Linked DNA regions of Homo sapiens: regions 1 and 3 are each linked to region 2. Evidence: fine-mapped expression QTL. A gene starts in region 2. Each other region holds a variant in brackets. All regions are shown on one strand. Distances are from middle to middle.

The links. PIP is the estimated chance that this variant, and not a neighbour inherited with it, causes the effect. A credible set is the group of variants that fine-mapping cannot tell apart.
Region 1: its variant is the best candidate, but not a certain one, in a credible set for the expression of PPM1F in tibial artery (GTEx, PIP 0.89).
Region 3: its variant is the best candidate, but not a certain one, in a credible set for the expression of PPM1F in whole blood (INTERVAL, PIP 0.89).

The regions. Positions count from the first base shown.
Region 1 is chr22:21,912,239-21,920,411 of GRCh38, forward strand. PPM1F (protein phosphatase, Mg2+/Mn2+ dependent 1F) reads right to left here. Exons shown (of 8, transcript NM_014634.4): 8 at 7,187-8,173. Among named protein-coding and RNA genes, the nearest start is that of PPM1F-AS1, 22 kb to the right of the region's middle. RefSeq lists enhancers at 4,679-5,489, 7,665-8,173. The variant T/C (reference allele first, on the strand shown) is at 4,243.
Region 2 is chr22:21,949,197-21,957,369 of GRCh38, forward strand. It overlaps PPM1F (protein phosphatase, Mg2+/Mn2+ dependent 1F), which reads right to left and starts at 3,652. Exons shown (of 8, transcript NM_014634.4): 1 at 3,596-3,652. TOP3B (DNA topoisomerase III beta) reads right to left here. Exons shown (of 18, transcript NM_001282112.2): 18 at 7,829-8,173. The coding sequence ends at 7,918. RefSeq lists enhancers at 2,805-2,874, 2,921-3,441 and a silencer at 3,435-3,844.
Region 3 is chr22:21,923,782-21,931,954 of GRCh38, forward strand. It overlaps PPM1F (protein phosphatase, Mg2+/Mn2+ dependent 1F), which reads right to left. Exons shown (of 8, transcript NM_014634.4): 6 at 7,367-7,510; 7 at 1,788-1,881. Among named protein-coding and RNA genes, the nearest start is that of PPM1F-AS1, 10 kb to the right of the region's middle. The variant T/C (reference allele first, on the strand shown) is at 3,484.

The DNA of each region.
Region 1 (8,173 bases), 37 kb before region 2:
AAAGAAGAAGCCACCACAGTCAACACACTCACCAACTGCTCACCCTCTTGGGTAACCAAGGAAGTGCAAATTGAAATCACAACACGATGCTATTTTACATTCATTACATTGACAAAAATTTTACAAGTAGGATGGTCCCAAGTGGTGGTGAGGATGAGAAACGAGGTGGTGAGGACAAGAAACAACAGAAATGCTGTGAGCACTGACATTGGGTACAAGCCGATGCATGGCCTAGACAGGTGGGCATGAAGACTCAGTGCAGACTGGCCTTGTGGCTGCACACCTGTGTGGTCCCATGGGGCCTGCACCTGGTTTAATGTGATGCTGCTGCTGTACAGAAATCCCTGATATTTTATCAAGGAACTCTTTTTTTTTTTTTTTTTTTTTTGGAGACGGAGTCTTGCTCTGTCGCCCAGGCTGGAGTGCAGTGGCGTGATCTCGGCTCACTGCAACCTCTGCCTCCTGGGTTCAAGCAACTCTCCTGCCTCAGCCTCCTATGTAGCTGGGACTACAGGCGCACGCTGCCACGCCCGGCTAATTTTTTGTATTTTAGAAGAGACGGGGTTTCACCGTGTTGCCCAGGCTGGTTTTGAACTCCTCAGCTCAGGCAATCCGCCTTCCTCGGCCTCCCAAAGTGCTAGGATTATAGATGTGAGCCATCATGCCCAGTGAGCTCATATATATATATTGCTCATATATATATATATAGCTCATATATATATATTGCTCATATATATATAGCTCATATATATATATATATATAGCCCATATATATATATAGTGTGTGTGTGTGTGTGTGTGTGTGTGTGTGTTTTGAGATGGAGTCTTGCTCTGTTGCCCAGGATGGAGTGCAATGGCACGATCTTGGCTCCCTGCAATCTCCGCCTCCTGGGTTCAAGCAATTCTCTGCCTCAGCCTCCGGAGTAGCTGGAATTACAGGTGCCTGCCACCACGCCCAGCTATTTTTTTTTGTATTTTTAGTAGAGATGGGTTCATCATCTTGGCCAGGCTGGTCTTGAACTCCTGACCCGGTGATCTACCCGCCTTGGCCTCCCAAAGTGCTTGGATTACAGGCATGAGCCATTGTGCCCAGATGAGCTCATATTTTAATTTGTAAATTAATTTTAACTATTTTGTTTTATTTTATTTTATTTGAGACAGAGTCTCATTCTGTCACCCAGGCTGGAGTGCAGTGGCGTGATCTTGGCTCACTGCAGCCTCCATCTCCTGGGTTCAAGCAATTCTCCTGCCTCAGCCTCCCGAGTAGCTGGGATTACAGGCACGTGCCCACTACCTCGCCTGGCTAGTTTTTGCATTTTTAGTAGAGACGGGGTCTTGCCATGTTGGCCAGGCTAGTCGCAAACTCCTGACCTCGTGATCTGCCCACCTCGGCCTCCCAAAGTGCTGGGATTACAGGCGTGAGCCACTGCGCCCAGCCCTAAACATTGGGCCAATTGTGGTGGCTCATGCCTGCAATCCCAGCACTTTGGGAGGCCTGGGCAGGCAGATCATGAGGTCAGGAGTTCAAGACCAGCCTGGCCAACATAGTGAAACCCCGTCTCTACTAAAAATACAAAAAATTATCAGGGTGTGGTGGCGGGCGCCTGTAATCCCAGCTACTCGGGAGGCTGAAGCAGGAGAATCGCTTGAACCTGGGAGACGTAGCTGAGATGGCGCCATTGCACTCTAGCCTGGGTGAGACAGCAAGACTATGTCTCAAAATAAATAAATAAATAAATTTAAAAAATGTTTAGGTCAGGTGCAGTGGCTCTCATGCCTGTAATCCCAACACTTTGGGAGGCTGAGGCAGGCGGATCACTTGAGGCCAGGAGTTCAAGACTACCTTGGGCAACATGGTGAAACCTCATCTCTACAAAAAAGTAAAAAAATTAGCCATGCATAGTGGTGTGCACCTGTAGTCCCAGTTACTTGGGTGGCTTAGGTGGGAGGCCAGATTGAACCCAGGAGGTCGAGGCTCCAGCGAGCCAACTGGACTCCAACCTGGGCAAGAGAGTGAGATCCCACTTGTAAAACAAAAAACAAACAAAAGACCAGGTGCAGTGGCTCATGCCTATAATCCCAGCACTTTGGGAGGCTGAGGCAGATGGATCACTTGAGGTCAGGAGTTTGAGACCAGCCTGGCCAACATGGTAAAATGCCGTCTCTACTAAAAACACAAAAATTAGTGGGGCATGGTGGCAGGCGCCTGTAATCCCAGCTACTTGGGAGGCTGAGGCAAGAGGATCTCTTGAATCCAGGAGGCAGAGGTTGCAGTAAACTGAGAACGTGCCATTGCACTCCAGCCTAGGAGACAGAGTGAGACACCATCTCGAAAAAACAAACAAACAAAAAAACGAACAACAAAAAAAAGGAAAAATTAGAATAAAAATGTAAAATTTAATTAAATTTTAATGCAATTAATTTAATTTTAATTTACAAATTGCATAGCCTGCTCTGCCCAGCATTTTCACTTCTTGGTGTATACCCTAGAGAAACTCCTGTGCATGGAAACCAGGAGACCCGACAAGAATGTTTATGGCAGCTCTGTTTCTGCAAAGATCCAGAAACCCACACAGCATGGATGAATTCGAGAAACATATGCTAAGTGACACAAACATGAAGTATAAGAAAGCAGACAGTAAAATGTCATTTTCAGAAAGTTAAAAGATAAGCAAAACTATACAGCAGTGTGTAGGGATATAGACATAGTGGTAAATCTATGAGGATGATTCTAACATTTAGGATACTGGTTAGAGGGTGAGTGGTGGGGGCGGCCGAGGGTGAAGTCTAGAAGGATCTTCTTATTATGGGCAAAGTTGTTTTGATGTTGGCTGGTGGGTCTGTTTCACTGTTAGGCTTTGGAGCTGATCTGGACATCAATTCTCAAGGTGTTGATGTCAAAGGCTTTGTGTTTTAAAAATGGAAGAAAGCCAGGCGTGGTGGCTCACGCCTGTAATCCCAGCACGTTTGGAGGCCGAGGTGGGCAGACTGCCTGAGCTCAGGAGTGAGTTTGAGACCAGCTTAAGCAACATGGTGAAACCCCATCTCTACTAAAGTACAAAAAATTAGCCAGGCATGGTGCTCCACGCCTGTAGTCCCAGCTACTTGGGAGGCTGAGGCGAGAGAATCGCTTGAACCTCGGAGGCAGAGGTTGCAGTGAGCTGAGACCGCGCCACTGCACTCCAGCCTGGGTGACAGAGCGAGACTCTCTCTCTCAAAAAAAAAAAAAAAGAAAAAAAAAAGGAAGAAGATTTTTGTCTTCCATTTACTGAAATAAAACAGCACCTGATGAACTGCTCATATAGGATTGTCAGGGCTTGATATCTGTGTCCTTATAGACACATACGGTGTAAGAAACTTCCACTATTTTTTTCTAAATGTCTGCCTACAAACTTTTCTTGGTGCAAAAATCTTTCACTTACTGAAAGAAAACAGACCATGATAAGCTGTTCAGAAAAGTCTGCTACATTGTTGGGATCAGGCATTGAGATGGCAGGGAGGGAGTGGGCCCCAGAGGCAGGCCTTTGAGCCTCCTGGGGCTGGGCAGTGAGTGAGGAAGAGGTCCCCTGACTATGGCCACAGTGACTGCCTAGGACAGTGGTCCAAGGAGAGGCCTGCCTGTGATGGGGCTTTGGTGCCACCATGGCTCCCTGTGCTGCTCCTGGAGCTAACACATCTGGCCAGGACCCTCTATGGGGGTAGGACAAATCCTCAGGGCTGGCTCTCGAGGGCTTGTGCCCACTTCTTGGCTGTGGGAGGCCCAGATGTCCAGAACACCGATGTCCAAGTCCCAGGAAGCAGATCCAAGACAGCTTTGTGTATGGAGCCCCCCAGCTGAGGTCCTGTCCTCAACTGGTTCAGAGCCTGGCTCCACCCAAGACCAGCCACCTGTTCTCAAGACCAGGTGAGAACAGGAGGGATCTGCAGGACCACAACGCAGCTGGGATCCAGGGACCTTCTGAGGGAAATCTGGGGCAGGCCAGTCATCAGCCCTCCCAGCCAGGATTCTTGCCTCTGTTTCCCTGGCTCTGCCTCACGTCACCTCTTGCCTGGGGGACCTTGGTTTTGGGCTCCCTTCCACCAGCTGAAGCCTCCATTTGGTGGGTGTGAGGCCCAGTCCTAACCCCCCAGCTCCCCACCCCTTCCCCAGGCAGACTCTGGCCTCAGCTGTCTGTGCTAGACTTAGCTCCAGGTTTGGCCCCCTCCTGACTGAGGGGTTGGCTCACACCCCTTTCACCTCCA[T/C]CCCCACCCCCACTTGCCACACTGTGGCCTGCTCCCATGGGTGAACCCCCTGTAGGTGCCAGGCAGCTCCAGCCCGTCTGCCTGCCTGTGCACCCTCAGTCCCTTGGGCCTCCCCCCCCCCCACCCAGAGGTCCTGAGAGAGGGTGCTCTCCGGGATCAGCTCTGTGAAAGTGAGGGGCAGACAGAGAGCACTGAGCCACTATCTGGCTGTGAAGATGAGTTTCAGACACATAAGCCAGTTCACCAGAGAACAGTCAAGACAGCAGATACTTAGGAAGGAAATCCTGCTGGGAGCTTCAGAGGAGCAGGGGTGTGGGGAGGAGGACATGGATGCTTGAGTAGGTGTGGTGGGCGGCCCAGGGCCTGGTCCCAGCTCTTGCATCCGGGGCTAGTTCCCCTGCTTCCCTAAGGATGCCCCCTCTGTGACACAGTGGACACAGATAAAGCTGTCTTTTGGCTAGGCGCGGTTGCTCACGCCTGTAATCCCAGTACTTTGGGAGGCTGAGGCGGGTGGATCACAAGGTCAAGAAATCAAGACCATCCTGGCCAACATGGTGAAACCCTATCTCTACACAAAAATTAGCTGGGCGTGGTGGTGTGCACCCGTAGTCCCAGCTACTCAGAAGGCTAAGGCAGGGGAATCGCTTGAACCCAGGAGGTGGAGGTTGTAGTGAGCCAAGATCGCACCACTGCACTCCAGCCTGGAGACAGAACAAGACTTCTCTCAAAAAAAAAAAAAAAGCTGCTTTTCTGGCGCTGGTCCTGGAGAGTTGGAGGCTGCAGCCCTGGGCAGCAGGCACTGCCGGGAGCCGGGGGAGGGGACTGAGAGCTCTCTCAGGTGGCTTGGGAAGGACCAGGAGAAAATGCACAGACAAGGCTACAGACAGGAGAGAGGAGGCCTGCAGGCAAAGTGGGAGTGGGGAAGGCACCGGGCTCAGGCAGCCCTAGGACAGCTGCTCCCATGCGCCCACAAGCCTGAGGGCCTCCCCCACATTCTACGGAGAAGTTCAGGGCAGCACTTTTGGCCGTGGCTGGGCAGTGTCTGCGGGGAGGCATTTCTGATGTTTGTGTGCCCTTGAAGCCTGAGCTCAGCCAGGAGCACAAGGGCGAGTTTCCCGGCCCCTGCTGCCTTGCTTTCTCTTGATTGAGAAAGGAACCAAAGATCAAAAGGCAGTGAAGAATTGGGGACTCTGAGAAGGGTGACTTTCCAAGGCTTGGACCCCTTAGCAGCTTTGCGGCCTAGGGGCACTTGACCCCTGTGTGATAAGCCGAATCCTCTTTGTCTTAGGTGGGGAATTGGTAGCTGGCTCATCCCTTGCCCCAGCACCTGCAGCAGCGTGGCAAACACTTGGCCAACATGCGCTGAAGGACTGGTCGACAGAGTCCCACGACTGGCTGCTTCAATACTGACCCCCTGAGGGCACTGAGAAGGCTCTGAAGCCGTCTCCAAGAGCAGTTTCATGTGTGCTAGGAGCTGCAGCCACATGGGACTGGGCCTGTGCGTGCTATCCTGGGGCTTCAGGGGGAACCAGCCCTCCAGCCTGCTAAGCGACCAGCAGCAACGCTCGGGCCAAGGCCCTGCATTTTGCTGCTGGCCGTCCTTGGGTGGGTGAGGCTACAGAGGTCTGGACTGGAGGTTGTGGTTGGGGGCCACAGGTCTAGAGCAAAGGGAGGCAGGTGGGCGGGCCTTGTGGGGGGTTCCCTAAAATCCATCAGGTGTGGTGGTCCTGAGGTGAGTTTCTGATATCTGTCCAAGCAGCCATCAGGGGCCAGTCCCTTCCACCAGGAACAGTGAGGCTTGCCCACCACCGAAGCGCTGCTCCCCACCCCCTCAGCCTCGCTCCCCCACCTAGTGCAGCCACCACTGCCATTCCTAGTTCTCTACCAGGACCCCAGGGCTTAGCACTGCCCACCCCTGCTGCTGGTGGATCTCTCCAGGTCTTCTGTTAAGGCATTTTTATCTTTTTTTTCCCTTAAAATTCCCATGACAGATTACATAAAAGCATTTTTAAAGCATGTTCACCGTACTAAAAAAAATTAGGATTTAGAAGAAAACCTAAAGGGGGGAGGAAAAAACCCCCTATAACCCTGCCCCTCAGGGAGCACCAGCAGTGAACCTGCAGTGGATTCACTTCTGGGCGGCAGCCGAGCTCCCATGTGGGACAAGTGCCATGCAGGCTTCGAGGATGGCGGAGCGGGGTGGCGGGAGCAGGGGGCAGAAGAAAGGCTCAGTGCTTTGTTCTTTTTTTGAGACAAGGTCTTGCTCTGTCACCCAGGATGGAGTGCAGTGGCGCAATCCTAGCTCACTGCAGCCTCAAGCTCCTCAAACTTAAGCGATCCTCCTGCCTCAGCCTCCTAAGTAGCTGGGACTACAGGCTTGTGCCATCATACTGGGGCTAATTTTTTGATTATCTGTAGAGATGGGGGTCTCCCTATGTTGCCCAGGCTGGTCTCAAACTCCTGAGCGCAAGAGATCCTCCCACCTCAGCCTCCCAAAGTGCTGGGATTACAGGTGTGCGCCACCACACCTGGCCTCAGGAGGTGCCAGGAGGGTATAAATGGTGGGCCTCAAGAGCGTCATGTCAGAGGGTCTCCATCCTCAGGATGGAACCTCCTGGGGCACATCAGGCTCCTGGATAAAATGAGGGGTCCTCAATGCTCCTGTGGCTCCCCAATGTCATGTGAGGTCCCAGGGGCTTAATCCCTTTCCTGTCACCTTCCTGCTGCTGGTGGGGGTGGGCTCAGAGCCCCTCAGGGAGGAAAATCAGGTTGCTGGCTAGACCAGGAGGGTGTAGGCCACCAGGGCTCTCTCCAGAATTTGTCTGCTCGCTTCGCAAGATTTGCAGATGGTCCCCAATATTAAAGCAGCTTCCAAACACATCTGGACATCAAAGGGGACAAGATGCTCAGAAGTCAGGAAGAAGGCAGGACTCGGGCGACAGAGTTCAGAACTTGTGGTTTATTGACACTTCTGCATGGTGGGTCCTTGGGAGACTGCCTTTCTGGCATCTTGGGACTTGTCCCTAAGAATAGGGAAGACAGTCATCCTGTCCTGGAGCAAAGCTCCCCCTTGCACAGGAACACAACTCCCATGCAGGAGAAGCCCACCGAGACGAACGCAGATAAACCCTTCGCAAGGCCTGCACTGCACCGGAATGGCAGAGCTCCGTGCATTTGGCAAAGCTATGGAGCCTTGGCAGAATGCACAGGACTCTGGGGGCTGCCCCCCTTGAGCTACAGAGGCAGAATCGAACCAAAAACACTGCTTCCTTTAACACAGCCCAACTGGCTTACATTTAGCTTGGGACGAGGCTAGGCCTAAGAAGGGCCAGAGCTGTCCTCCCAGCCCTGGGAACACGGCTGAGACGGCCCGGTGCCCACGCTGGGCTCACCATAGGAGAGGAGAGGAGAGGGAGGGGGCCCCATACTGGCCCTGCCGTCTGCACCCCGTCCCTTTCCCCACTAAACACACCCATTTCCTATCCTGGGTTCTGAGGCTGGGACTGCCTCTGGGATTCTGAGGGACTGCCCTCCACCCCTGCAGGCCTGGGCTCAGAGTCAGCCACACCTGTAAGGCAGGCCCTGCTTCCCCAGCTTTTGTATTCCATATACGGTGCTGGCATGTGGAGCTCCATTCTTCTCCAGCCCACTTAATTTTAAGAATAGACACTAATAAGACTTAACCACCCCAACCTGCTGGCAGCAGGAGGGCCCCTGTGTGCTGGCAGCATCTCCCCAGGACACGCCGGCTCACCTGCACCCACAGCGTTCTAGGAGGTCGCGGCCTCTGCAGACTCAGTGCAACCCCTGGGCCTTACAAAAGGGACACTCAGAGGTGCACTGCCTGCTCAGCTCACACAAGGAACAAGTGGAGAGCTGGGCTGGAGAAAGGATTACAATTTACAGACCAGTGTCCCTGGCTAGGGGCCCT
Region 2 (8,173 bases):
CTCTCAGGGCCTGTGCCAACTGCCTGCTCTTGTTACAAAGGCAGGGTGCCCAGGGCCATCTTACTTGCTGGGGACCAAGCACCCTTGTTTCTGCATCACCAACCTAAGGCAAGGGGTGAGGAGAGAAACCAGGACACAGCTTTCTCTCCCTGGAGCCCAGATGTCGAAAGGGACAGGAATCATTTCCTTCCTTTTCCCAATAAGCTCCTGAATCTGACGTACACCATGGCACACCCGGCAGGAAGGAGAAATTCCTCACCAAGGGAAACCAGAGGCAGCCCTGGGAGTGCCTGGAGGGGCAGGGGACAGTGCTGTGGTTCTTTGAGGGATCAACTGGAAGAGACAGCATCAGGAATGGCATGGAGGCCAGCGGCAAGCCGCAGGGAGTAGGGAGAGCTGGGAGAGCACCAGAGGCAGCGGAGCCTGGTGCTGGGCTTTCCTGAGCAGGGCACACCAGTGAAAAACTCCGAATAAGAGGGACGTGTGCATGAGCCTGTGCAAATCACCAAGAGCCCGGGGTGGGCATGGGAGGGACATTGGACTCCTGCATCCCAGCACCGCCTGCCTGGACCAGTCTGACCAAATGCGACTGGCAGCTGGTTCCTCCTGGATCAGGGCCCCACTGCACACCAAATGGGTGCTCACCCTCCTAGAACCTATTTAAGGTCCCACATAGGTGAGAAATGGCAAAGCAAACTCATCGGGGGGCAGCTGCAGGGGTGTGGCTGACGGTGCTGCCAGCTGCCATCCGCCCCTGCTCTGAGCACTCTTCCTGGGATGGCTTTTAGCCTCCCAACAACCTCTTGTGGTTATCCCCACTTCACAGGGCAGGCTGTAGCAGAAGAGCTAAGGAACTTGCCCAAAGTCCCAGGGTGGGGTTCATGCTGGGGAACCTGGGCCTTAACTGTGATGACACCTGGGAAGTCATTCTGACTCCTTCTATCCCTGACCTGTCCCTCATTGGCCACCAGCTCTGGGCTTTGGCTCTCTCATGGCTCCTCCTTCCATTTCTGTGTACCCCCCACCCTAGGGCAGCCCCTCCCCTCCTTGTTTTGTGGTGCCCTCCTTCCATTTTGCCTCCCGAGATCTCTCAGATCCTTTGAGGCTTTGCTGAAATCTCCCCATCTTTGGATCCAGCATGCTCTCTTTCATGTCTCTATGGCACTTTTGCTCACATCTGACTTGTAAAAAGTTTTTTTTTTTTTAATTTAAAATATTTATTTTCCTCTAGTGCATTAGTTTTGACTCCTAAGCTTAACGAATGCAGGGTTTAACAACTGCAGTTTTTTAGGGGACATAGAAAAAATACTTGTTGAGTCTTGCTTAACTGCAGAACCAAGGTAATGAAAAAAACCCAGCAATCCTTAGAAAAGGGAACTGCACCACTATAGTGTAACAAAAGCATCATTCATGTTAACTGTTTTTTTTTGTTTTTGTTTTTTTTGAGACAGAGTCTTGCTCTGTCACCCAGGCCGGAGTGCAGTGGCGCAATCTTGGCTCACGGCAACCTCCGCCTCTCAGGTTCAAGTGATTCTCCTGCCTAAGCCTCCCTAGTAGCTGGGATTACAGGCACCCACAACCACGCCTGGCTAATTTTTTTGTATTTTTAGTAGAGATGGGGTTTCACCATGTTGGCCAGGCTGGTCTCGAACTCCTGACCTCAGGTGATCTGCCCGCCTCAGCCTCCCAAAGTGCTGTGATTACAGGTATGAGACACCACGCCTGGCCAACCTTTTTCTACCAAAAGAGATTCTTATTTCTTTATTCATAACTACTAATACTAATAATAGTTAGATGTAAATCCTAGATTTTTTTTCTACATATATAAATTTTTTTTATTGTTGTAAAATATACACACTATGTATCCTTTTAACCATTTCTAAGCGTACAGTTCCATGGCATTAAGCATAGTCACATTGCTGTGCAATGACCATTTCTTTCTACAGGCCTGACTTTCTTGATAGACTGTAAGCTCCCTGTAGTCAGGGAGCCCACGATGGCCCTTTGTGTACAGCAGGTGGTAAGTGTGATGGCAGAGGGAAGAGTGACTGGCGGGTGGCATGGGCTGAGGAAGCTACACCACTCTGAAGGGTGCAGTGGGCAGCAGCGCCAGGTCTTAAAAGACTCGGTTGGCTTCAGGTCAGATGGTATCCTTTTTTTTTTTTTTTTTTTTTTTGAGAGGGAGTTTCGCTCTTGTTGCCCAGGCTGGAGTGCAATGGTGGGATCTCAGCTCACTGCAACCTTCGCCTCCCAGGTTCAAGCAATTCTCCTGCCTCAGCCTCCTGAGTAGCTAGGATTACAGGCACCTGCCACCACGCGCGGCTAATTTTTGTATTTTTAGTAGAGATGGGATTTTGCCATGCTGGTCTGGAACTCTTGACCTCAGGTGATATGCCTGCCTCGGCCTCCCAAAGTGCTGGGATTACAGGTATGAGCCACCGCGCCCGGCCTTCAGGGGGTATCTTAAAGGAATTCCACAAATGAACTTGTGTAGAGGTTCATGGCTTTCAGAAATGCATTCGTTTTGTTTACCTCTCACAACTACGCTGAGAAGTACATACTGTCAGGCTACACTGCAGATGAAGAAATAGGTTATAGGAGGGCAAGCACCCATTTAAGGTCTCACACAGGTGAAAGGGCAAAGCGAACTCAATCAAGGTCTCTGGATGCCCAATGCCTTTGGTATTTCCACCTCGCGTGCAGGAGGAAAAGAGCGAAATTTGACAACAGAAGAGACTGGAGATGGCCTCAGAGTGCTGGCCGGCCCCACTTTCTATCCCCCGTGGTGAGAGCTCAGCTGGGCCCAGAGAACTTGTCCCGGGGAATGCCACCACGACATGTGTGACTCTGTCCCGCAGGGTGGAAGGCTTCGAAGGAGCCCGCCACCATGCAGTGGGCCTCACTGTGTGTCAAGCGCTGTGCCGAAATCCCTGCAGCCGGAGCCAGTTCTTCCTGTTGTACAGACAGGTTCAGGGGCTTGCCTGACCGAACCCAGCGGCAATGTGCCCGGCCTCCGCGCCTGAGGCTCTGGCTCACAGACCTGTGGCTGAAGCAGCTGCAGCCCGAGCACTTGTGCAGCTGACGCTCGCTTCACGGACGCTTGGGAGGCCGCGGAGCCGGGGGCCATCAGGCAGACTGGGCCCCTGAAGGTGCAGGGACTGGGGGGATATGGGGCAACGTGCCGGCCCAGAGGCTCCTGGGGGGTGGGGAGAGGCCAAATCTCGGAAAATGGGGCGCGTCCCCCTCAGCACCCGATTCTGCCTCATAGCCCTCGGTCCCTACCAGGCCCTCGGCTCGGCCACACCCCCGCCTGCCCCCCAGTTCTGCCCCCTTGGCTCCCCAGCCCCCCAACTCCCAGCCTCGGGTTCCTCATGTCCGCAGCGGCCCCTCTTGCTCCTCGGCCCCCCGCACTGCACCCCCGCACCCTTTCGGTGCACCCATGTGAGCCTCGTCTCGGCCTCCTTGCCTCCCCAGCCCTCTGATTCCACCCCTCCGGTTCCTCGGTCCCATTTCACCCCTGTGCGCCTTGGGCGCTCGCCTGACCCTCGTCCCAGCCCCGTCAGCCCTCTAATCCCGTCCCCCCCGGCCTCCTCACCCCTGGTCTCCGCGGGCCTCAGCTGTCTCCTCGCGGCTCCGTGTCCCGCAAGCTGCTGCCGGCCGGCCCCGCCCACTTCCCGTCCCTGGCCGCCGCGGGCGCCGCGGGCGCCGCGCAGGCGCAGTCGGGCCTCCAGGCTGGCGGGGCCGGACCTCTGCTGCCCCCTGGCGGCTACGTGGACGGTGACTGCGGCCCTTTAGTGGTAGGCGAACTGCGGCTCCACCTGGGCTCCGGAGCCGCCCCAGTCACCAGCCTCTTGCTTCTCTTCTGCAGCTTTGGGTGGGCGGCTGGATGGGGAAAGCAATCCCTAGGTCACAGCGCCCAGAAATTAAGCAACTTCTGCCGTCAATAGCTGGTAAGTGACAGAGCAGGGATGCAAACCCAGACTGCCCAGGCAGGCTCATCCGTCCGGGAAGGAGGCACAGTCCCAGGCTCATTATGAGTTGTTTGTTTCCACAAACGTTGAGGCTTTTGTTATCTTTCCGTTCTGGAGGTCAGAAGTCCACTTAGCCTCAGTGGGCGAAGATCCAGGGATCGCCAGAATGCGTTCCTTTCTGAGGATTCTAGGGGAGAAACTGTTCCCCTGCCTTTTCCAGCTCCTAAGGGCTCCCTGCATACCTTGGCTCGTGGCCCCTTCCTACAGCCTCGAAGCCAGCAATGGCCAGTTGAGCCTTTCTCACACTGCCACCTCTGGTTCCCTCCTCTGCTTCCTTCTGCTACTTCTAAAGACCCTCCTGATGCCATTGGGCCCACCCAGATAGTCCAGCATCATCTCTCTAAATCAGTTGATTAGCAACCTTAATTCCCCTTTGCCCCTTATTATTATTATTATTTTTTTTTGACACGGAGTCTCACCCTGTCACCCAGGCTGTACTGCAGTGGCATGACCTCGACTCACTGCAACCTCTGCCTCCCTGGTTCAAGCGATTTTCCTGCCTCAGCCTCCCGAGTAGCTGGGACTGCAGGCACGCACCACCATGCCCGGCTAATTTTTTTTGTATTTTTAGTAGAGATGGGGTTTCACCATGTTGGTCAGGCTGGTCTCAAACTCCTGACCTCAAATGATCTGCCTGCCTCGGCCTCCCAAAGTGCTGGGATTACAGTACAGGCGTGAGCCACTATGCCGGGTCTGCCATGTAATCTAACACAGGCACAGGTATAGGACATGAACATCTCTGAAGGGCCATTTTTCTGCCAACACAGAGGCTCTTGAAAATATTCTTTTTCTCTCTTTTTAGAGACAAGCTCCTTCTCTGGTGCCCACACTGGAGTGCAGTGGCATGATCACAGCTCACTGCAGCCTCAAACTCCTGGGCTCAAGTGACCCTCCCCTCCTGCCTCAGCCTTCCTAGTGTCTGGGAACACAGGCAAGCACCACCACGCCCAGCTGATTAAAAAAAATTTGTAGAGACAGGGTCTCTATGTTGCCCAGGCTGGTCTTGAACTCTTGGGCTCAAGTGATCCTCCTGCCTCAGCCTTCCCAAGTGCTGGGATTATAGGTGTGAACCATTACACCTGGCCAAAATATTTTATTTTAAAGGCAGAAGAAAGAAACCTTTATGTCAAAGAAAATGTTTTAATATATGATATTAATATATTCACCTTTATACCAATGCCGTTGGAAAGTATAATTTTTTAAATGGAGGATGGGGCACCAGATCTTATGTGGCTCTGCCCACCTGACCTTCAGGTCCGCAGGCCTGTGTCCTTGCCAGGAATGAATGTCTCTGGGATGCTTCTCTAACAGGAGGAACCTGGAGTGAGACCAGGAACCTGGAGAACTAGCAGCTGGGTGACTGGAAAGGAAACCATCTGGGGTGGGGTTGGGTCTGCAAGGCAGGAGGTGTCTGGGCAGAGAAAGCAGGGCTGGGGCGGAGGGTCCTGCCTCATCCCATTCTCCTGCTCACTCTTTCCTAGATCCCTGTCAGGGCAGTAACCATGAGCAAGGCTTGAGGCTACTTCTTATAAACAGTGGCCCTGGGCACATTCCTTAGCTCACCTGAGCCTCAGTTTCTTGATGAGAAAAAATCGGGACAATAGCAACCAACCTATCTCAGAGGGCTGCTGTGAGACCCTGAGCCACTGTTTCTCAAACTGCCCCTGAGATCACCTACAACAGAATGGCTGTAGGGTGAAGTTTGAGAACCGCAGTACAGGTGAGGTGGTGCGTGGGGCAGGCCCTCCCACACTGTAAAGTGCAGTGTGGTGCGGTAAAAGCTGATATTCCCGCAGGCATCCTCAGAGTGGGCCCAATTAGACTCTTGAGCACTGATTCCATTCAAGGTCTGCGGCTTAGAGAGGATGGCAAAGTGAGGCACCACCAGGAGCTTGTCCCTATGGGCTCCAGGCCAAGGACGTGCCTGGAGATGACTCCTGCCTTGTGGCGCTGTCACTGCCTCACTGTCCACATTCCATCACGCCTCAGATCCTGGCTTCCACCCTGGTGAAAGGAATCTTTCAATATCACCCACCCAGCCACAGACGCTTCTCTGCTTCTCTGGCAAGGCTGCACCCCTGGCTAGGTGGGCAGGGCCAGGGGCTCCTTGAGACAGTCTGCAGCCACTGACCTCTCCAGCCTCCAGGGCAGAGGTACAGTCCCATGGAGCGTGGCTGATCTGAAGGCAGTTCTGGCCTAAAAGGGGTCTTGTCCCTTCCTTGTCCTCATTGCTCCCAAGGCCAGGTTGGCAGCAGTAGCAGCGGGGTTGGATGCTATTGGATGGGAGAAGGTGAATGGACTCGGAGTGCAGAATCAAGCTGCGGAAGCCAAGGGCCTTGAAGGAGGGTCACACACAAGGGACAACTGCAGAGGAAAATAAAGGAACACTTTGTGATTAGCCCTGCCTGTGGCTGAAAGCGCAGTGCAGAAGCATAGTAAGGAAGGACTGGGTGGTCTGGGTTTAAGACCTAGGAACCGTCTCTGCTCCTCCAAGCCTGAATGAGCCCTATAACCTAAGGGTCCTGGAGGTCTTGAAACCTTCTGCGGAGAAGGCTCCAGGTCCACTGGGCCCTGTGGGTGGAAGAGCAGAGTCACAGCCCCGCACTGGGGACCTAACAGGTGTGGCCTTGCTAGGGCCCCAGAATGGGACCAGAGTGGGTGGGAGGGGGCAGAAGCTCTGAGAGCACCCCCTCCTTCCTGAAGCCTGTGCTTCTGAGACACATCCCAGGACCCTCTATGTGGTTCCCCATGTCTCTGTATTTTCATTCAGCTTCGAGTAGCTCTCCAAACTGTGTTCCAGGGAACCCCCGTGTTAACCTGTGAGGGCCTCCAGGAAGGGGGTCCAGGGGGGGTATGCTTGGTGGGCTCTGGGTTTCCTTACAGGAGCTCTCATATAAGTCCTGGTGCAGCCTGGGAATCTACTACTGAGTTGGGGCGGGGGCGGGTCTGAGTCCGAAACATTCCTGACCTGCCCCTCAAAGAAAGGTCCCACTGAACAGTCTGGAAAGCTGTTTTGCTGAGCTCCCGTCATCACTCAATGAGGCACGGGCGGAGTGTGGAGGGAGTTTCCAACACACAGTGGATCCCGCACAGGTGTCTCTCCTCGGGTGGCTGGGGAGGGGAGCACAAGAAGGCACTGAGGTCAGAGGGCAGCTGCCACCAGCACCTGGCACCACACGGCAGTCTGGCCTACAGGGTATTTTCTAAACCTGGCATGTGAATGGGTTCCATGGGGCACCCAGCTGCCTCTAAGACCATAAGGGCTTGTTGTGAGAATGGGAATTGCAGCAGGTCCTGGGAAGCTGCCAGACGCACACGGGCACCATGTACAGGGCTTCTCAGAGATGGGAGCAGGGAGCAGGGGACGGAGAAGTGTGGGGTCAAGAGCGTGGCCCTGAGCAGGGGGCTGCAGCGAAGACCAAGGGGATTCATAAGCCAGATCCGGGGAGGGGGTCTCCCAGCCCCACCTGCTCCACTAGACTCCTCTCCTGCCGGAGCCACAGCTGTCAAGGCCGCCTTCCTTAAGGCATCAGGGCCACTGCTTGTGCACACAGCTACCATCAGCAGCACGGATTGAGATGGGGTGTGAGTGCAAACTGGGTCTATTCCCCAGGGCTTCAGGGTTGGGGCATCCCTGCCCGTACTGCCAGGGTGTAGGGATAGCAGGGAGCACTCTGGGCACGTGTATGCAGGCTGAAGGGAGACGTATTGGGTTTCGGAGAGGGAGAGAGGGCCCCACAGGTGCCCAGGGACACGGTAACGCTCTGACATCGCTGCACCAGCAAAGGGGCCCCAGCTCTGGATAAGATAAAATGCATTTTAATAGTTTGAAGTGCCATGAGGTGTCTGCATGGCACTGCAGCCTGGGTGAGGGAGGACAGGGTCATCATACAAAGTAGGCGGCCAGGGCTGACATCTTGTCCTTGGGCCGTCTGGGGTTGGGCTTCCCAGGGGGCCTCCTGGCCCGGCCCCGCCCTCGACCCTGCCTTCTCCCTGGTCCACCGCGGTGCATGGGGTGGCAGGAGGCCGCATGCTTCAGCTCCACCAGCTCCTGGAAGACGGGGTCACAAAAGACGCAGCCCATGTGCTGCGTCTCATCGCCCGGGAGTGGGGACTTGGCCTTGTTGAAGTCCACATCAAGC
Region 3 (8,173 bases), 25 kb before region 2:
ATTCCCCTGCCTCAGCCTCCCGAGTAGCTGGGATTACAGGCTCGCGCCACCATGCCCAGCTAATTGTTTTTTTTTTTTTTTGTATTTTAGTAGAGATGGGGTTTCACCATGTTGGCCAAGATGGTCTCGATCTCTTGACCTTGTGATCTGCCCACCTCAGCCTCCCAAAGTGCTGGGATTACAGGCATGAGCCACCACACCAGGCCGAGCTCCCTCTTTCTCTGCCCTAGCCGTCCCATCCTGGCCTCACTTCCTGGAGTGTCCAGAGACACAAGGAAAGACACAGCCTGAGGATGGGCTGTCAAGAAGGTGCCACATCTGCCAAAAAGGACAGAATGTTTCAGAGGGGTAGGTGCCAAATCCCTGGCAATCAGCTGGGGAGGGAGAGATTTTCTAAGTACCAGGAAGGAGGTGTGGTCACAGTGCCCACAGCCTGAGACCCGGCACTGACCGCATGCTGAGACAATGAGATGCAGGCTGGACCCACTTTTTTTTTTTTTTTTGAGATGGAGTTTCGCTCTTGTCGCCCAGGCTGCAGTGCAATGGTGCAATCTTGGCTCACCGCAACCTCCACCTCCAGGGTTCAGGTGATCCTGCTGCCTCAGCATCCCAAGTAGCTGCGATTACAGGCAGGCACCACCACGCCCGGCTAATGTTTTTTGTATTTTTAGTAGAGATGGGGTTTCACCATGTTGGTCAGGCTGGTCTCGAACTCCTGACCTCAGGTGATCCACCCGCCTTGGCCTCCCAAAGTGCTGGGATTACAGGCGTGAGCCACCGCGCCCAGCTACTTTTTTTTTTTTTTTTGAGACACAGTCTGGCTCTGTTGCCCAGGCTGGAGTGCAGTGGCACGATCTCCGCTTACTGTAACCTCCGCCTCTGGGTTCAAGCACTTCTCCTCCCTCAGCCTCCCAAGTAACTGAGATTACAGGCGCGTGCCACCACACCTGGCTAACTTTGTATTTTTTGTAGAGAAGGGGTTTCACCATGTTGGCCAGGCTGGTCTCGAACTCCCGATCTCAGGTGATCCGCCCACCTTGGCCTCCCAAAGTGCTGGGATTACAGGCGTGAGCCAGCATGCCCAGCCAGACCCATTACTTTTTAAAATTTTTATTTATTTTTATTATTATTTTTTGAGACAGAGTTTTCCTCGTTATCCAGGCTGGAGTGGAGTGGCGCGATCTCAGCTCACTGCAACCTCCGCCTTCTGGGTTCAAGTGATTCTCCTGCCTCAGCCTTCTGAATAGCTGGAATTACAGGGGCTCACTACCATGCCTGGCTAATTTTTTGTATTTTTTTTTTAGTAGACATGGGGTTTCATCAGGCTGGTCTCGAACTCCCGACCTCAGGTGATCCACCCACCTCGGCCTCCCAAAGTGCTGGGATTACAGGCGTGAGCCACCGCGCCCAGCGAACCCACTTTTTTCCCAAAAGAGAAAAAAGGATTGTCAGCATGAACGCGGGAGGAGGATAAACCTCATTTCCGGAATATTGGAAGCTCTACTTCCAGCCCATAGGGTGGTGAGCCACAGGTTTCTATGAGATTTGTAGGAGCTGTTTTAGGTGAGATAATAACATACAGTGTAACTTACACTCAGACACTGGTGCTGCAGTCTCTGAATCTGCCCTGTTCCCTTCACACTACGAGGGTATCACCCCAGTGCATGACAAATCCCCCTCGGCCCATCACACTGCCTCCCTGAACCCCTGGTGAGCCGCGGGCCACACTCGAGGCCTGGGCTTCCGAGAGACCTTCTCCCACTTGGGTCGGCCTCTTTGGCTCTCACCGATGGCTCTGGAGACGGCCAGGGTCCCGTTGACTCTCCAGCAGTCCATGTGAGACACAAAGCCACCCAATGCTTCAATGCGCGCCTTCTCATCCTGCAGAAACACAGCCAGAGTTGGGGGCAGGGCCGGGGGGATGGGGCGTGAAGCCCCCTGCTGCTACCTGAGCAGAGGCACAGCTGCTTCTAAGACAGCAGCATTCAAAGCCGCAGCACTGGAACAAAGCCAGGAGGCTCAGAGATGCACCCAAACGAGGCTCATCAAAAACAGTGAGAAATTATACACAACCCACAAGTCCTTTAGTTGCAGGAATGGTGAAATGAACGGACCACCTGAGGCCGCCTAGCGGTGCCTGCGCCCCTGGGCAGCATTCTGGGTCAGGGAGGCACTCACGAGGCTTGCGAGCCCGACACAGACAGCAGATCCTTCTGCTTCCCTGTCTCTAGCTCGGGGACACCGTCTCTGCCCTGAAAGCTGCTGGGCCAAGATGGAGCATGTGACGTGAGTGGTCACACAGCAGGGAAGCCTGAGCGAGGCCCTGACGGCAGCCTGTGCCCGCCCAGTTCTTTTTTTTTTTTTTTTTTGAGACAGAGTCTCGCTCTGTCACCTGGCTGGAGTGAAGTGGCACGATCTTGGCTCACTACAACCTCTGCCTCCTGGGTTCAAGTGATTCTCCTGCCTCAGCCTCCTGAGTAGCTGTGACTACAGGGGCGTGCCACCATGCCCAGCTAATTTTTTTGTGTTTTTAATGGAGACAGGGTTTCTCAAAGTTGGCCAGACTGGTCTCGATCTCCTGACCTCATGATCCACCCTCCTCGGCTTCCCAAAGTGCTGGGATTACAGGTGTGAGCCACCGCGCCTGGCCTAGTTCTTGTCCTCCTCTACCCAAGCTCAGCACAGGCACAGTCTCCACTCAGCTGGGGACCACAACACCCCAGGCCTGGGTTCCTCCAGGGACAGGACAGAGGCTTGGTCCACCCACAAGTCCTCTAGAAACCTCTTTGGTCCTATCAGCCTCTGCCCAAAGGAGAGGCTGCCCCGATGAGAGCCTGCTGACTGAAGCCTGCACAACAGCATCCCTGACAGAGTGACGGAGGCACCCTGGGAGTGAGGCACCTCCCAAGTCTACTGGGGGAAGAGGGCATCCCTTACCGGTTTATCAGGTAAACCTCTTGACCCCACGCAGCACCAGCCCTTCTAGTCCCCAGGCACAGCACCAGCTGGGCATGAGAACTCTGATGCCCCAGGTGATGGTGTCCCCTAGACAGATTGGGATATCAGCCAATTCCCTCCCCAGAGCAGACGGACATGCACTGCGGGAGGCCTGGGGGAGGCAGCCCTCTCCAGATGCCTGCACCAAGGACCAGGCCTCTTTATGTGGCTCCCCTGCAGAGGGCATTGTGGTGGGAATGACATGGGTTTGCAGGAGTCCCGGCCTTCCTGGGCACTGCAGCCATGAGCCTGTGTGGGAACTGGACCAGTGCCTGGTAGGCTGGGTGCTCCTGTCCCAGCTGAGGTGGAGAATCAAGCCATGAAGGGGGCAGGAACAGGGACCTCAAGGCTCTCTCTGGGTCTAAGATCTGCCACCTCCGGGGTCTGAGCAGGGCAAGGGAAAGGCAAGGAGGACCAGGAAGGAGGGAAGAGCAGGAGACAGCCAAGAAGAGGGCAGGAGAAAGGGCACGGGGAGAGGCAGGTGGA[T/C]GAACACAGAGTACGCACGAATGTTCACACATACATGTGCCCACACACACGCGTGAAGGCGCCTGCAGACGGCGAGGAGCTGCAGAGGAAGCAGCGCCTCCTCCCCTGTGCCTCAGAGGCGTTCCCTGGGGAGGGGCTGTGAGCGTGGGAGGCTCCAGGGAGAATGAGGAGCCTTTCTCTGCTTCTGTCTCCCACACACCCCAGCCCACTCCAGCCCCTCAATGTCCCAGAGGCAGGAATGTGGGCAGGTGATGGAGAATGAACGGCAATCTGCTTCCCATGCCCTCTGGAGGTGGCTCTCCCCCACAGGGGGCCATGCAGGCTAAGCTTAGAACCTTCCTACCTGAAGCCCCTCCCCACCACCAGGGATGGCTGTGGGACAGGGTGGAGCCAAAGGGCAGGAGGGCACAGGGGCTGTGCTGCTCCCCTGCAGCCTGTGATCCCCTCTCCTGCCATTCTGCACCCCCTGTGCTGGACAGGCTGCGCCGGCTCCCCGGGCTCGCCCCTCTAACCCTGGCCCTGAACCTGGGTCCTCCTCCCCTCCAGTGGCTCCCACCTCCGTCACACACTGGCCAGGCTCAGTCTGGTCCGGGACTAACATATCCCCAGGCTAAGGGGTCTTGTCCCATTCCCCCTGAGTCTCCTAGTCACTGATTCTTGATTCTGTTTTTTGTTTTGTTTTTTTTTTTTTTTTTTTTTTTTTTTTGGAGACAGGGTCTTGCTTTGTTGCCAAGGCTGGAGTGCAGTGTCATGAACATAGCTCACTGCAGCCTCGACCTCTAGGGCTCAAGCCATCTCCTGCCTTCGCCTCCCGACTGCCCAGCGCCCACCCCCTCAGCAGCTCTTCCCTCTGCTCCTCAAACCTCATCCTCTCCACCTGCCTGAAACAGCTTCCCAGGTCAAAGCTGGAGCCGGTGGCCTGTGGGTTCCTGTGAACAGCCATTTCCTGCTTCCTAGGAGTGCAGTGCTCCACACGGCCAGGCCGCAGCAGCGTCGCCTATGGCACTGCCATCCTCCTGGATGCCCAAGGCCCTCTGCGATGTCTCCACCTGCAGAGCCGGGACTCCTATCTCTCCCAGGCTGCCTGCCAGGCGTGCCAGCGTGACCTGTGACCTTGAGTGACTCTCACTGCCCTCCTGAACTCACTTTTGTGACCCAGCCCTCAACTTGTCCTCCAGTGGCCTGATCACTTCAGAAGCTTCTAGTGAGTCCTTACAGAGTTCCTCCCAGCCTGGGGCAGTCCAGCTTTTCCAGCTGAAGGAGCAGCAGGTGGGTGGTCTTCTCCCCTGCCCCGAGTCTTCTACCCACTGATTCTGGGGCTTGTTTTTGTTTTTTGAAGACAGGGTCTCACTCTGTTGCCAAGGCTGGAGTGCAGTGTCATGAACATAGCTCACTGCAGCCTCAACCTCTAGGGCTCAAGCCATCCTCCTGTCTCCTGAGGCTTGAGAGGTGGGAGGATCACTTGGGGCACACCTCCACACCTGGCCCTGATTCTGGCATAACCTGCCCTTTCCTCCTGGTCTCTCCCCTGGCCTGCAGGAATTGCAACTGCCTGAGATGCGGCTCCATTCCATTCATCTCTCTGCCTCATCCTGCCAGGTCCTTGCCCTCCTCCTGCTCCCCCATTAGACTTAGAGGCAGGAAGTGGGTCCTGTGTTATCTCACTGCCTCAACAAAGTATCTTGTGCAGAGTGGGCACTCAGTGTTTGGAGGCTGAACTGAGTGCAGAGGCAGGAGACTGTTCAGACAGCCGCAGAACAAGGCAGAGCACCACGCACTCCCCCCACGTACTCCTGGAAGCTGCTCTGGGCCGCTGCTGGACCCCCGTTGAAGCTCGCCAAGTTGAGGCCAGTTTCTTGCTCTTGTAACCGACATGATGCTTGTTTTTGTGGGAGAACCTTGGCCTGGATCTGTGATTAATTCTCTAGGGTGGAAGGCTGTGATCAGGATCACAGCAGGAGGGGCCAAGCCTACAGAGCATGGCGGCAGGAAAGGGGAGGTGGGGGGCACTGGATCTGAACTCCTTGGCCCATGCGGGCTGCAGCCAAGAACACAGACACCTGTGTGTGCTTCTCTTGTGCAAGCTCTGATCTCTGTGCTCCACATGCACTGGGACACTCAATCCTTACCCCAAACCTCCAGGGACCCCTGTGTGATGGACTTGGAAGCGGTGGAGCCGGGACCAGGCAAGGCCATCTGTCCATGCTCTGCCACGACGCCATACTGCAGGACTCAGGCAGTGTTTGAACAGAGCCCCCACTGGGCTTTAATGGGGTGCTGAATGCTGAGCCTGTAGGTGTGCAGGCAGCAGGTGGGAGTGGGCCCAGCACGAATCCTGACTTGGCCACATTTCATCTGACTGCATATCCTGGGGAGGAGAGCCCACTAGGGAGCAGGTGCCAAATTCCCCCACGGTGGTGGAGGCAGGGGAGTGGCAGAGACTATCTGTGACTTTGGCGGTGTGCTCTGGGCAAGTGACTGAGCCTCAGTTTTCTCCTCTGTACAATGGGGAGAGGACGTACAGGGGGCCCATACCAGACCGTGAGCCGCAGTGAAAGGCCAAGGAATGTAGCTGCCCCTGACTGTTACAATCATCAAGTCCTGGTGTCTCTATGTGCTTTCCAAACCAGAAGCCACAAAAAGACTACTCAACTACAGAAAAACACAAAGCCTCCATGTGGCAAAAGCCCATAAACAAAAATAAAAGATGCATGGAAAAACATTTGCAAATCATCACAGACAAGGAACCAACCTCCTTCACATATACAAGGAACCTATAAACTGATAAGAAAAACAGGCAAAGGAAAAAAACAGTGTTTGCAGGAAAGGCTGTGTAAATGATCTTCAGCTTTTGAAAACACGCTCAAACTCACTCTGTAACAGAAAAGCAAACTTAACAATTGCCCCAAGACAGGCTTCTTACCTGACAGGAAGAATCCTGCAGCCTGGTGAGACTGTGGGGAAATGGACCTTCTTGGGAATGTAGTGCCAGCCCAGGCTGGCATGGCCTGAGGTGGGAAGCTTGGCAAATCTACCCAGACTGTACGTGCATCAGTTCCAACCTAGCCATCCCACTTCTGGGGATGTGTCCTACAGATATAGGTACACTTGACTCTGAGCAATTAATGCTGCACAAAGTAGGTAGAGATGCATTGTTTTTAGCACCGAAAGACTGAAAAGATCTTCATGCTCACCCACAAGGGACTGCATGATGAATGCAATGTCCGCAGCCCCAAGAAAGGATGGGTGCTCCTATGTGCTGACGTAGAATTATCCACCATGTGCATGGTTAATCAAACATAGCTGGTGGAGAACAGCACGTGGGAAAAGTGGGGTTTGAGGGATAAACAGTCATTCCATGATATCTGAATGCTCGCAATCCAACCTCAGGAGACACATGGATGAGACAGTCTTCTGAGAAGAGGTCTGAGTGGGACTGTCATCCTCATGTCCAGGTGATGACCTGAGTGCCAGGGTCCCAGGCAGCCTCTAGTCAGTACAGCCCCAAGCCAGGTTCCCTCCAGCCTCGGGGCAGCATCACCTCCCTGAGGCCTTCCTCACCCACAGCCTGTGGCCTCCTTGTCCGTGTGTATGATGGGCTCTGGTCTGCACTGGGCTGCACTGACTGCACTGGGATGCCTGTCAGTGCAGAGGGCTCTGCTCTCCCCCGGAGCTCTGGGCTCCATATAGCTGTGACCCACAGAGCTCTCAGGAAGGGCTCACGTGGGACCCCCGGCCACTCAAATCAGGCAGGGAGCCCTCCCTCTTGAAAGGTGCCAGGATTACTACTACCTGAAGTTCCCAGGCTGGGTGGGGTTCCCCTATGGGCCCAGCATGATGGAGGCCAGGAATATCCTGGGCCTGGGCGCAGGGATCCCCTTACCTGCCGTTCTGGTCTGTGTGGCTCCATCAGCTTCACCACCTGTCCCTGCTGTACCAAAATGACCTGGGAATCCCCGAGCCAGGCGACGTGCAGGGTCGCTCCTGCAATGAGCGCACACACACCTGTGGTGCCGCTCTGCAGCCGCTGCAGGGAGAGAGGGCCCATGAGAGTTGAGAGGAGGTAGGGAAGGGCAGAGGATGACACGGGGCAGGATGAAGCTTCCGGGGGTGATGAATACTTCCGTTACTGTGGTGAGGAATCCACAGGTGTATATGTGTATAAGCCAAAACTTGCCAAATTGTGGACTTCAAATATGCACCACTTACTACCTGTCAATTGTATCTCAATAAAGATGTTTATTTATTTATTTATTTATTTATTTAGAGACAGAGTCTTGCTCTGTCATTCAGGCTGGGCTGCAGTGGCACAATCTCGGCTCAGTGCAACCTCCGCCTCCCGGGTTCAAGTGATTCTCCTGCCTCAGCCTCCCAAGTAGCTAAGATTACAGGCGTACAGCACCACGCCTGGCTAATTTTTTGTGTTTTTAGTAGAGACGGGGTTTTGCCATGTTTCTTTCCCAGGCTGGTCTTGAACTCCTGAGCTCAGGCAATCTGCCTGCCTTGGCCTCCCAAAGTGCTAGGATTACAGGCGTGAGTCACTGCGCCTGGCTATTTATTTATTTAGAGGCAAAATCTTGCTCTGTCACCCAGGCTGGAGTGCAGTGGCACAGTCTCAGCTCACTGCAACTTCCATCTCCTGGGCTCAAGTGATTCTCATGCCTCAGCCTCCCAAGTAGCTGGGACTATA